Regions from separate parts of the Homo sapiens genome. Here region 1 is linked to region 2. The links come from fine-mapping of genetic effects on gene expression. Tissue or cell type: whole blood. Region 2 holds a variant in brackets; the other region holds the start of a gene. All regions are shown on one strand. Distances are from middle to middle.

What was found.
Region 1: YWHAZ starts here. The variant in region 2 is fine-mapped to the expression of YWHAZ in whole blood (TOPMed, PIP above 0.99).

Annotation. Positions count from the first base shown.
Region 1 is chr8:100,950,479-100,953,371 of GRCh38, reverse strand. It overlaps YWHAZ (tyrosine 3-monooxygenase/tryptophan 5-monooxygenase activation protein zeta), which reads left to right and starts at 1,352. Exons shown (of 6, transcript NM_145690.3): 1 at 1,352-1,443. RefSeq lists enhancers at 8-117, 397-1,255, 2,408-2,487, 2,114-2,893 and silencers at 258-937, 958-1,217, 1,448-2,217, 2,608-2,827.
Region 2 is chr8:100,892,244-100,895,136 of GRCh38, reverse strand. No RefSeq gene overlaps it. Among named protein-coding and RNA genes, the nearest start is that of YWHAZ, 58 kb to the left of the region's middle. RefSeq lists an enhancer at 1,844-2,522. The variant G/A (reference allele first, on the strand shown) is at 1,527.

The DNA.
Region 1 (2,893 bases), 58 kb before region 2:
CTCCCGTCCCGGCTCATCACCCGGCCTGTGGCCCACTCCCACCGCCAGCTGGAACCCTGGGGACTACGACGTCCCTCAAACCTTGCTTCTAGGAGATAAAAAGGTAATGATCGTCATGTGCAGTATGAGGTCTTCACGTGAAAGCTTTATTTGGGTAGGAAAACCTAGCCTACGAGAAACGGGTCCGTGCGGTCACGCCTGACTGCCTGTCTCCGGGTCAAGGCTGCCAGGACCAGCTCCAGCCCTCCGCCCGAGAAGGCTGTCCTTTCCCCTCGGAACTCTGGCTTCCCTAAAGCGGCCGCGCCTCCTTCCAGGCCTCACCTCCTGCCGGCTCCGCCCGGCCCGGCCCACCTCGCCCCCACCTCGGCGCCCACCCATTGTCCCCTCGCGCAGTCACCGAGCGCAGATCCCGCGCTCTCGATTGGAACGCCTCCCCATCACTCAGCCACACTCAGGGGCTGGACGCCTCACTCCCGTTTCCGAGCCATAAAAGGTCTAGGACCGCTTCCCCCGAGCCAGCAGGTAAAGCCGCGGCGGCGGGAGGGAGGCCGGGAGGGGCCGCGCGCCCCGGTCGGCCCAGCCGGGGAAGGGGAGCGGCGGGCGGGGCGGGGGGCAGCGCACCACACACAACCCTCCCTTGCCGTGCGACCGCGCCCTGCCCCCGCCCCGGGGCCCCCGCCCCGCAAGTCCTGATCACAATGCCGGAGCCGCCGAGCCACCCTTGTCATCCTGCCCGGGGACGGCCCTGGGGCAGTTACTACCGCGAAGCACGGAGGGTGGGGCGGGCCGGGCCTCGGGGAGGGGTGGGGGGATGTGAAAGGTCCCGGATGTTGCTGAACGGGAGCCCCTTCCAGAGGGAGTGACTGGGGCAAGCGCAGACGGGCTGAGCGAAAGCTAAGGTGGGGGTAGGGAGAGAACGCCTTCCCGCCGGCTGAGAGGAAGAGTGGGCCGGCAGAGGCTGCAGGGGAGAGGGAGAGAGAGGGCGTTGGGGACCCAAAGGGAAGGCGAGGAGTGGGGGATTTGCGTTGGGGAGGAAAAGGAAAAAAGCAGCCTCCTGCCCTAGGTGCACTCGGGACAAGCGTAGAGGAGCTGGAAGCCGAGCGGGGTGGGAGGAGTGGCGGCTGCGGGCGAGGACGCGCGCGCCTCCGCTCGCCCTCCAGCGCGGGCGGGCAGGACGAGCGCCGGGGAGCGGCGGTTACGCGGGGCCCCGATCGCTGTGGGCACCAATCAACGGTTGCCATAGCAGCGTTTGACGTCATCGTGCGTGTGGTGCCCCTGCTGCCGGGGCTGGTGATTGGAGGAAACCCCGTGTCTGCGGAGCGGCTGTAGCCTGTGAGCAGCGAGATCCAGGGACAGAGTCTCAGCCTCGCCGCTGCTGCCGCCGCCGCCGCCCAGAGACTGCTGAGCCCGTCCGTCCGCCGCCACCACCCACTCCGGACACAGGTGAGGAACCCGGCCGCCGCCGCGCCTCGCTTCCTGTCCCAGGCCAGCCTTCCGAACGCGTGGGAGCCGTCCTCGCTCCGTCCCCTCATCCCCACTCGCCCCGCGGTGGCGGCGCCGGGCTGAGGCGGAGTCTCCTCAGCGGACACGGGCGGCGGCTCCTCTTCCGCTGGGCTCGGGAGGGCGGCTAGCGGCCGCCTCCGGCTCCTTGCTTCCGCATCGACGCCCCGGCGCCGATCGGTGCTCGCTCCCCCGTCCTGCCCCCGGGGGTGGGTAGGGCGCCCACACGCGAGATCCCTGGGGATCTCCCTGTCGCCGGCTCCCGAAGGTGGACGAGGCATGGCCGGGGCGCCGCCGGCCGCGATCCATCCCCACCCTTGTCTCTGCGGGCTTCCACCCCCTCCCTCGCCGCCCTTCTCGCTTCCGCCCGAGATAATGACTCGGCGGCGGCGGCGGCGGGCATCGCAGTGGCGCAGGTGAGGCCGCCCCCTCCCCTCTCCCTCGGCCGCCCCCTCCTTTCCCTCCCCCTCGCGCAGCCTCCGCGCTGGGCGCTGCGGCGGCGGGACCCGGCCCTCCCCCACCCCGGGAGGCGGTGGCGCGGCGGGGAGGGGCCGGGGGCCTCGGGGACCCAAGCGCGAGGGAAAGGCCTGGCCGAGAGCGGGCCGGAGCCCAGGCCTGGCGCGGCGGCGCCCGCCAGGTAGACCGGGGCGAGGCTGCGCGCCGGCGGGAGGGGAGTCCACTGCGGGGTGAGGTTTTGGGGTGGGGCTCGCCTGGGACCTAGAGCTGAATTTCCTGGGCTCCGCGGTGGGAGGAAGGACTTGAATTTTCCTGGTGGGGGTGGGGGATGGGTCTGACTTTTTTTGCTCCTTGTGAACGGGCGGGGGAGGTGTGGACGGGGGCTGCAAGTCCAGGTCGGGGTAGAGAACAGGGTGGTGAGCCCGCAGTCGGCTCCCGTGCTTGATGGACTAGAACTGGAGGGTCCCTGCGCTCGGTTTGGGGACGCATATCCTGCTTTGGGGGCGGGTGAGCCTGAGCATAGCCGCTGGTGGCCCGCTCGGCTGGGTGTGGCTCTCGTCCCCTCCCCCACCTGCAGCTGTCGGTCCCTTAGAGACGCTGTACACGGTCACCGGCGCTGATCGGTGGCGGGGAAGGCGCTGGGTGGGAGAGCGGGGTGTGTCCGCGGCGGGGCTGGTAGTGGTTCCGCTTCTGCGGGCTGCTGTGGCGTCTCTGCCCCGGGGTCGGGCGGCTTCGCTCCCCATCTCTCCCCCCCCCCCACGGCTTGGGCGGGGGCGCGGGCTGCTCCTCCCTCTGGCTCCGGTCGGGGGGAGGAATTAACACTCTGCAGTAGGTTGGGCTCCCTGACACAGATCCGCCATGACAAAGGAGGAGAGTCGGGGACTTGAGCCGTGGCTCCGACTTGGGCGGAGCCTGGAGGGGGGTGGTTGCGATACGC
Region 2 (2,893 bases):
ACTAATCCCACCATGGAGGCCCCACCCTTATGACTCTGCCTAGCCCTAATCACCTCCCAAAGGTCCTACCTCCAAATACAATCATATTGGATGTTAAAGCTTCAACATACAAGTTTTAGAGGGGGATACACTCAGTCTATGACACACATTAACAATGTATATTCCCAGTAAGTAGGGTAACTGAAACCATGAAGAGGTGAAATAGCTGCCCAAGGTCACACCATTAATAACCAGCCAAGTTGGAATTTGGAATTGGATCTGCCAGATTCCAGAACCCGGATTTTAGCCTTCCTACTGTGCTCGGTCTGATCAGATCATCCATTTAAACCCTTGCTTTGGGAGAATTGCAAAGGTTCACCTCCTGGCAGGCAGAGAGAGGGAAAATAATTCCCTAGTCCCAAAAGCAGAGAATGATCTTTACAATCATCTAAGTCCAAACCTTCATGCTAGGGTCAAGAAAACTGAGTTCCGGAGTGGGTAGTGAGTGGCCCCTAGCTGGGCAGAGCTAGAATTAAAAAGCCCCACTTCCCTGACCTTCATCAGGGACATTTGTACCACTGCAGGCCAGCCTGGCTGTAGGCCGTAATGACTGAGTCTTGACTCTGTGCTCCATTTGACAACATAATCAATACTCCCCTCCCACTGTCAGCAGTCTATGACATTGTCTATGACCTCGTTCATGCCCCATTCTTTCCGCTCTAAGACTCCAAAACGACAAGTTGACTGTTTTATAGGTTTGTTTTTAAACTATATTTTAACATAAGGAATGAATCTTTTCAGGAGTGAAGACAGGTAAATTGAGACCAAGCAGCAGAGCCTACAGCATCCTTGACTATTTCAGGACTGCCTTCGACAACTCCATAAACCAAGTGACACTCTTTTGGAATCCCCTGTTTTGTGACACCTCCCCCCTATATGGAGTCAGAAGACTTGGGTTGGGATCCAATGCCAAATGATTACTTGGCAGATTATTTTTTTCCTTTCCGAGATTCTATTTCTCCATTATCATTATTGGAAATAATGATATTTACTTTAAAATAGAGTTGTAGTGAAGATGAAACAATTAGACAAAATAAACCAAAGCTTGTGAGAAGACAGCCTATCCTGTGTGCTCTGGACCTGGCTCACTTCCAGTGGTTCGCTAATGGCCTCTGGGGGACCACTGGTCACCATCTCACCTCAAACCAGGTCCCTTCCAAGGGCATCTGCTTTGTCCTTGTCACTTAAAGTGCTTCAACACAAGAATTATGGTGTATTGATGCTACTCTGACAGGCACTGAGGTTGGTAAGTGGGGCAAGAGAGTCTACCTGTTTCCCTAGGGAGGCTGTTACCAACATTGTCAGCCCATGTAGGAGGCCTGCCATCCACCTTCCATGTGGCCCAGGCCATGGAATAGGGACTGAGCATTGCACTTGTAGGGACAAGCACACTCTACTTTGCTTCACTCTGCCTGGCGGTCTCTGTTCTCCCTTCCTATCCCCTTTTACACCCTGGGTAAAAGTAGGGAAGGAATAGACATGCCCTG[G/A]TATGGCAAGAAGACCAAGGACTTCTCAGCATGGAGATGTGAACTCAGGGCTGGAGCTTGGCTCCACTGCTTTCCAGCTGTGTGACTTAGGAAAATGACTTCAACTGTCTTTACCTTAGTTTCCTCATCTGTAAAATGGACATAATAATAATTCCTATATCACCAGACTGTTGTGAGAATAGAAGAATATGTATATTTCCAGTTATCTATTGTTGCTGCTATGTAACAAATTAGCCCTAGATTTATTGGTTTAAAATACAACCATTGGTTTTCGCTGTGTTGGCCGGGCTGGTCTCCAGCTCCTAACCGCGAGTGATCCGCCAGCCTTGGCCTCCCGAGGTGCCGGGATGGCAGACGGAGTCGCGTTCACTCAGTGCTCAATGGTGCCCAGGCTGGAGTGCAGTGGCATGATCTCGGCTCGCTACAACCTCCACCTCCCAGCTGCCTGCCTTGGCCCCCCAAAGTGCCGAGATTGCAGCCTCTGCCCGGCCGCCACCCCGTCTGGGAAGTGAGGAGCGTCTCTGCCTGGCCGCCCATCGTCTGGGATGTGAGGAGCCTCTCTGCCTGGCTGCCCAGTCTGGAAGGTGAGGAGCGTCTCTGCCCGGCCGCCGTCCCATCTAGGAAGTGAGGGGCGTCTCTGCCAGGCCGCCCATCGTCTGAGATGTGGGGAGCGCCTCTGCCCTGCCGCCCCGTCTGGGATGTGAGGAGTGTCTCTGCCTGGCCGCCCCGTCTGAGAGGTGAGGAGACCCTCTGCCTGGCAACCGCCCCGTCTGAGAAGTGAGGAGCCCCTCCGCCTGGCAGCCGCCCCGTCTGAGAAGTGAGGAGCCCCTCCGCCCGGCAGCCGCACCGTCTGAGAAGTGAGGAGCCCCTCCGCCTGGCAGCCGCTCCGTCTGGGAAGTGAGGAGCGTCTCCACCCGGCAGCCACCCCGTCTGGGAGGGAGGTGGGGGTCAGCCCCCCGCCCGGCCAGCCGCCCCGGTCCGGGAGGTGAGGGGCGCCTCTGCCCGGCCGCCCCTACTGGGAAGTGAGGAGCCCCTCTGCCCGGCCAGCCGCCCTGTCCGGGAAGGATGTGGGGGGGTCAGCTCCCCGCCCGGCCAGCCGCCCCATCCGGGAGGTGAGGGGCGCCTCTGCCCGGCCGCCCCTACTGGGAAGAGAGGAGCCCCTCTGCCCGGCCAGCTGCCCCATCCGGGAGGGAGGTGGGGGGGTCAGCCCCCGGCCCGGCCAGCCACCCCATCCGGGAGGGAGGTGGGGAGGTCAGCCTCCCGCCCGGCCAGCCGCCCCGTCCGGGAGGTGAGGGGCGCCTCTGCCTGGCCGCCCCTACTGGGAAGTGAGGAGCCCCTCTGCCCGGCCAGCCGCCCCGTCCAGGAGG